2 separate regions of the Homo sapiens genome follow, and region 2 is linked to region 1. The links come from fine-mapping of genetic effects on gene expression. A gene starts in region 1. The other region holds a variant in brackets. All regions are shown on one strand. Distances are from middle to middle.

Region 1 (2,916 bases):
ACTTCCAGACCAGTGAGGTAGAGTCCAACAGTGAGAAAACGGATCTGCCCCTAAGGTCCTGGAGACGTCTCAATCGGTGGTCAGGAAGAAAGGGACCTCCCCTGCGGGTCCAGCTGTCCCCTCCCTCCGCAGGCCGGGTACGGGAGGCAGCAGAGGGCACACCTGCCCCAGCGTCCAAGACGACCGCGCCGCGGCCCGGGACAGGGACAACCATCCGGCAACTTCTTCGCGCGTAAAGTGCATTGGGGGCCGGGGTCCTGGCCGGATCTGTAAACACTCGACTGACACTTGTTCATTCCTCCGGGCGGAAGGCCTGTCCCAAGGTCGGGGCCGGCAGGAGGCGCCCTGGAGGCCGCACCTCATGCCCGGGGCACCGGGAAGCGGCGGAGCCTCACCATGGGTTCCAGGTTCACTCGCAGGACCTGGCGCGCCCTGCGCCGCGCTGCCGCCAGGCTGCGCTCGCCCCACACGTCGCTGCCGACGCGGATGGTGGGGAAGGTGGTCAGCGTCGGGGTGGCCGCCCTCCAGATCTCCTCCAAGGTGCGGCCCCCGAAGCAGGGCCCGGGGGCCACGGGCTTGGCCGGGCAGCTCTCCTCGGGGGGCGGCGGCGGTGGGGGTGGCGGCCGGGGCTTCCTCCTGCGGGCAGCGGCCGCCCGGGCTCCGCGGCGCCTCCTCCTGGCCGCTGCGCGCGGAACCGGCCGGCGCGCCTGGCCGCGGGCTGTAGGGGGCCCCGGGGGGTCGGGTACCAGGGCCCGGCAGGAGGAGTAGCCGTAGACGTCCTTGCTGCGCAGGATGTGCGGGGAGAACTGGTGCTTGAGGCTGCAGAGGAAGCTCCAGAGCTCCGCGTCCGAGCTCATGAACTCCGTGCTGCGGGGCATGAAGAGCTTGAAGGCGTCGCCCAGCGCCTTGGTGCTGTCAGCCAGCGACAGTTGCGACCGCGAGTACACCACCTTCTCCTCCCGCGCCTCCAACCCAGCCCCGTCTTCTGCCCTAAAGTCGCCGCCCCGGGCGGCCGTGGCCGGGGCGACCGGGCGCCGGCGCCGCCGCCTCTTCATACTGCGCCGCATCGAAGGCCGCTCCGGGCCACTCACGCTCGCCGGGTCCCACTACTGCCGCCGCCGTCCCAGTCCGCGTTGGCTCCGCGGCGGCGGCTGCTGCTGGCGTCTCTCGCTACTTTTCTCGCCTCCGCCGCCGCCCCTCCCCCTCCGAGGGCGGAGGACGCGGGCGAATATCCTGCTGCCCGGTACAAGATGGCGGCCGGCGCCCACCCCTGGGCTTTGTCATTGGACGGCGCCTCGCCCCCCTGGTTTCTCTTTCTTCTCCTCTCTTGCCTCTTTTCGCCGGCTGCCTTTCTTTAAATGTGCCCGCCTCAGGCCCCTCCCACCGCAGCCCCGACTCCACCCATTGGGTGCTCTCAGAAGAGGGGCGGGGACTGATGGGGGAGAGGCCAGTTCCTGGAAGATGGTGCTGGGGTGGGTGATGGCCTTTGAACGTAAGTCAACGGTTGGGTGGATCTAGGAGGGCTGCCACGTCTAGAGTAAGAGGGTGGATGTTGGCTACACCATGGGAAGAGTGACTCTTAGAGTGAGGGGGTGTGCAGTTGTGGATTGAGCTGGGAGCTCTACCAGTGTGGATAACAAAGGGAGATTTCCCTGAAGGATGTTCCTGGTATCATCACAGCTAGGGAATTTGGGTTTAAGTCTAGGGGAAATGGGCCTTTCGCAATTCCCATCCACCCTCTCAAAGGCCTCTTCTGGCATCTTCATTCAAAACTCTTCCCTGTCTTGACCCCAGCCCATCTCAAGAAGCCAGTAGTAATCCAGAATCATTCAGGTAATGTGCGTGGCTGGCAGCTGAGAGATTTTAGTCTCCCTCTGGACACTGGAGCCATCTTCATATTTAAGAGAGACCCTGCTTATCCAGAAAGCAAAACATGTCATACCCTATAAAACTAAATACTCTTTGCTCAAGTTGATCAAAGATCTATTACAATAAAGCCATTCTGTGAAAAGAAAATATAGTTTTAAATACACAGTTCTTTATGGATGCCAATTCGTTTTTCATTTAGTTTTAAAATGTCAAAGCCACCCCTATCATTTAGAAAGGATGCATCATCGCAGACAACAGATAAGGTTTCGTTGAAAAACACAAATTGTTCAAAACACATTACCTTTTGTATTGGGAGGAGAGTAGTGGACATCCTTTAGTCATCTTTTCTGTCCTCTATACCTAACTCAGTTCCTGTCAGGTAGTGGACACTCAATGTGTTTGCCGAATGAATCAATGAAATACCACCGATTATCCCAAATAGAGTCAGAAATGTTGAAACTGCTTAGAACAGGACAATTAGATATTTTATATTGCAATTTTCACAGAACTCCTTTAAATTTCTTAAGGTTAAAAGAAAAAATCTCCTGACACTTAGAACTTTGAGGTGGGCATGTGGATTTTACCCAGGAAACATCTTATTTTGCAGTAGTGAACAAATAAAGTATAGGAGTTTTGTGATTTACATGTAGTTGCTAATGGTTTCCTCAAATATTTGACCTGAAAGAGACCTAGTTCATTCTCCTTATTTAACAGGTGAGGAAATCTGTACCATAGAGGTTCAGTAACACAGCTGGCTGATAGCAGAACTGGGATTCTAAATCCTTCGATTTCTAATCTAGTGATCTTTGTATTTCACTGAAGGTTTTTCAAACTGTGCTGTCCAGACTCTAAGGAATTCAATAGAACATGCTTTATGCATAAGTAGAATGACGAAGGACAGAGCTGTACCCCTATTCCTACTTCCACCCCACCCAGAATTGAGCAGTTTTTCTCTGTCTTATAATAGATTTATGAATAATATTTTGTTTGTTCAGTTTCAATAAAACCTAAAATAAATAATTTGAAAGCTCTACACCAGAGATGTCA
Region 2 (2,916 bases), 110 kb after region 1:
AGTTTGTTCTTGGTTTGGGTTACTGACAATTTTCCCTCAGCAGGTAAAGGAATACATTTAGGAAATTTTTGTCCTGGATTCCAACAAGAAAGAAGGAGGTGTCAAATGCAGAAACAAGCAAACCTTGGAATAAAATGGCCTTGATGTTTATAATAGTGAAAAAGGTAATGGTCAGACCTTCAGAAAGGGGGCTTCATAAAAAGTAAGGAAAATAATAGTGCCCAAGGGAATATGTTTAGAAGAGGAATGTAGACTCTGAAAACAGGATTACTTGAGCATTACAAAAATGATCCTGTTTAGGAGGAAAGATATGCTGTCTGGAAAGAAAATATAATAGAAATAATCTCAGATAATTGACCATAAACAAGCTTGTGCTGAAAACATAAACAGCAAGAATAGAATAATAGTCTAGGAGCACACAGTTCTCAGAGAGGAGGTAAAAGGAGGGTTAGATCTGGAGTAGTAAGACTCGAGGTTCCTATGGCTCAGAGGACGGATGGGGTGGACAGACCCAAGCATGCGATAAAAGAAAGGGAAAATTTGTTTAGAGTATTATGAGAATAAAGTCTTAAAATAAAGTAGGGGCGGAGATAAATACTAAAGACAGCAAGAAAGCTGTTTTTCTTTTTAATCTCCGTAGCCAAGAAAAGATCTGGGAAGAAAAACCTATGCTGTATCTCAGACAATATCACCTTAGGCCAAGCATGGTGGCTGACACCTGTAATCCTAATGCTTTGGGAGGCCAAGGCAGGAGGATCACTTGAGCCCAGGAGGACCTCTTGCCCACCAGCCTGGGCAACAAAGTGAGACTCCATCTCTACAAAACTTTGTAAAAAATTAGCCAGGTGTGGTAGCACACGCCTGTGTTCCCAGCTACTCGGGGCTGAGGTGGGAGGATCACTTGAGCCCAGAAAGTAAACCCTCACTAGCCATGTTCACTCCACTGCACTCCAGCCTGGGCCACAGAGCAAGACCTTGTCTCAAAAAAAAAAAAAAAAATTACAATATAACCTTAACAAATGATAACATAATCAAAGAACCATTCAATTTTCTGCTTCCTTCCATATTCTAAGAGAGATGAACATCAATTTTGAAGCAAACATTATGAAGAGAGAATTAAAACCTACAATAGAAAAAGAGATAGTAAGAGAAATCTTCACTTACTCTGAATGACTTCAAAACTTCTGTTAATACAAATTCTATCCCAAAGTATCAAAAGAGTTTGCAGATGAGATCAGAGAACTGCTCCTGAGAATCAAGGAGAATGGAAAAGGTGACTAATGGCTGGAAAATGTTTCTACTTCTAAAAATAGTGAAAGAATGAGATCTGTATGTAAACTGAT[G/A]AGCCTCATGCAGACGCCAAACAAAATTCTAAAATGGATGATTTGTAGGCAAGATACAGTAAACAAATACTAACCAGTGTGAATTCACTAAGAACAAGTCATGCCAACCAGTCTCACTTCTTTTCTTAGATTTGGTTGCCTGTGTGTCAGGAGGAAGGCATGCACATGGTATGCCTTGGTTTTAGCATAGCATTTGCCAAATATCGTGATGCACACCTTTTGTTGTTAAGATGGAGGAATGAGGGCCCAGGTAACAGCAAGATGACTGGTGGTTTGCTGCATAGTTAGGCATTCAATGTCACCCAAAGAATATTGGCCAAAGACTTGACTTCCACCTTAAAAGGCAAACTCCAAGAATTTATGATTTGCTCATTTCTGTTCAATATTTTTGTCAAAAACATGAAAACCACAGAATGCATGTTTATGAATATTTCAATTTAAAAATTAGGGAGACAGAGCTAATACACGAGGAGACAATTCAAAACTATTTCTTCATATAGAAATCAGGCCCAAAACAAAGAAAATACAAATTATTTGGGATAAACATAAGGCCAAAAAAAAAGAGAGAGACAGAGAGACTAATAATACCAATAGCTTACATTTATTGAACAGTTACTATGCATTATATAGTCACATGCCATATATACATATGTTTTGAGACTGGATCTTGCTCTGTTGCCCAGGCTGGAGTGCAATGGCACAATCTTAGCTCACTGCAACCTCCCCGTCCCAGGCTCAAGCAGTCCTCCCACCTCAGCCTCCCGATAGCTAAGACTACAGGCACGTCACCATGTTTGGCTAATTTATATATATTTCATAAAGATGGGGCTTCATCATGTTGCCCAGGCATTATATTTTTTAACCTCATAACCACCACATTATCATTAGAATTATTGCTTTTAAAATTTATCAGCGAGGAAGCTAAGCCTGAGGGGCTAAGTAATTTCTGCAATTTATAGTTAGTAAGTGGCCAAGACTTAAATCCAGGTGTGCCTAAATTCAGGGCTTATGGTTTTAGCAACTTTACTAGTCTCATCAATGCAGGAATGGAGGTTACTTGGCATTAACTTATTTTGAGTTTTAATTGAAAACACCCAGATAAAAGTGTTAATATTGCACAGTAGCCACTTAATAATGCTATCTTCTTTCTTACTACAACATTGAAAATTTAGGAGAAACTTGATAGTTGAATTCAAATAATTTAAGAATTGATAAAATCTATGTAACTCAAAACAAAAAAAACTAAGATTACAGTTAAAAATTACACTGTGATATATATATATCATATATATATGATGGAATATAGGCAATGACTTATTTATGTTAAAAGATGGAAGAAACATAGATCAGTGTAGTTAAAGCCCAGTGTAGTTCAACCATATATATATGATATATATATGATGGAATATATATATATATATATCATATATACATAATGGAATTATATACATGATATATATCACATATATATGATGGAATATATATATATATATATATATATATATATATATATATATATATATATATCTCGCAGTTTCTTTATCCACTAATTGATTGATTGGCATTTGGGTTG

Which allele goes with the higher level. Positions count from the first base shown, and alleles are read on the strand shown. Sizes are in standard deviations (SD) of each study's normalised expression.
As copies of G replace A in region 2, the expression in aorta of the gene that starts at base 1,329 in region 1 goes down (small effect, 0.37 SD a copy in GTEx).

The links. PIP is the estimated chance that this variant, and not a neighbour inherited with it, causes the effect.
Region 2: its variant is the best candidate, but not a certain one, in a credible set for the expression of CCDC71L in aorta (GTEx, PIP 0.51).

Annotation. Positions count from the first base shown.
Region 1 is chr7:106,659,830-106,662,745 of GRCh38, forward strand. It overlaps CCDC71L (coiled-coil domain containing 71 like), which reads right to left and starts at 1,329. Exons shown (of 1, transcript NM_175884.6): 1 at 1-1,329. The coding sequence starts at 1,067. The coding sequence ends at 360. RefSeq lists an enhancer at 103-152 and a silencer at 503-772.
Region 2 is chr7:106,768,988-106,771,903 of GRCh38, forward strand. No RefSeq gene overlaps it. Among named protein-coding and RNA genes, the nearest start is that of LINC02577, 4.6 kb to the right of the region's middle. The variant G/A (reference allele first, on the strand shown) is at 1,344.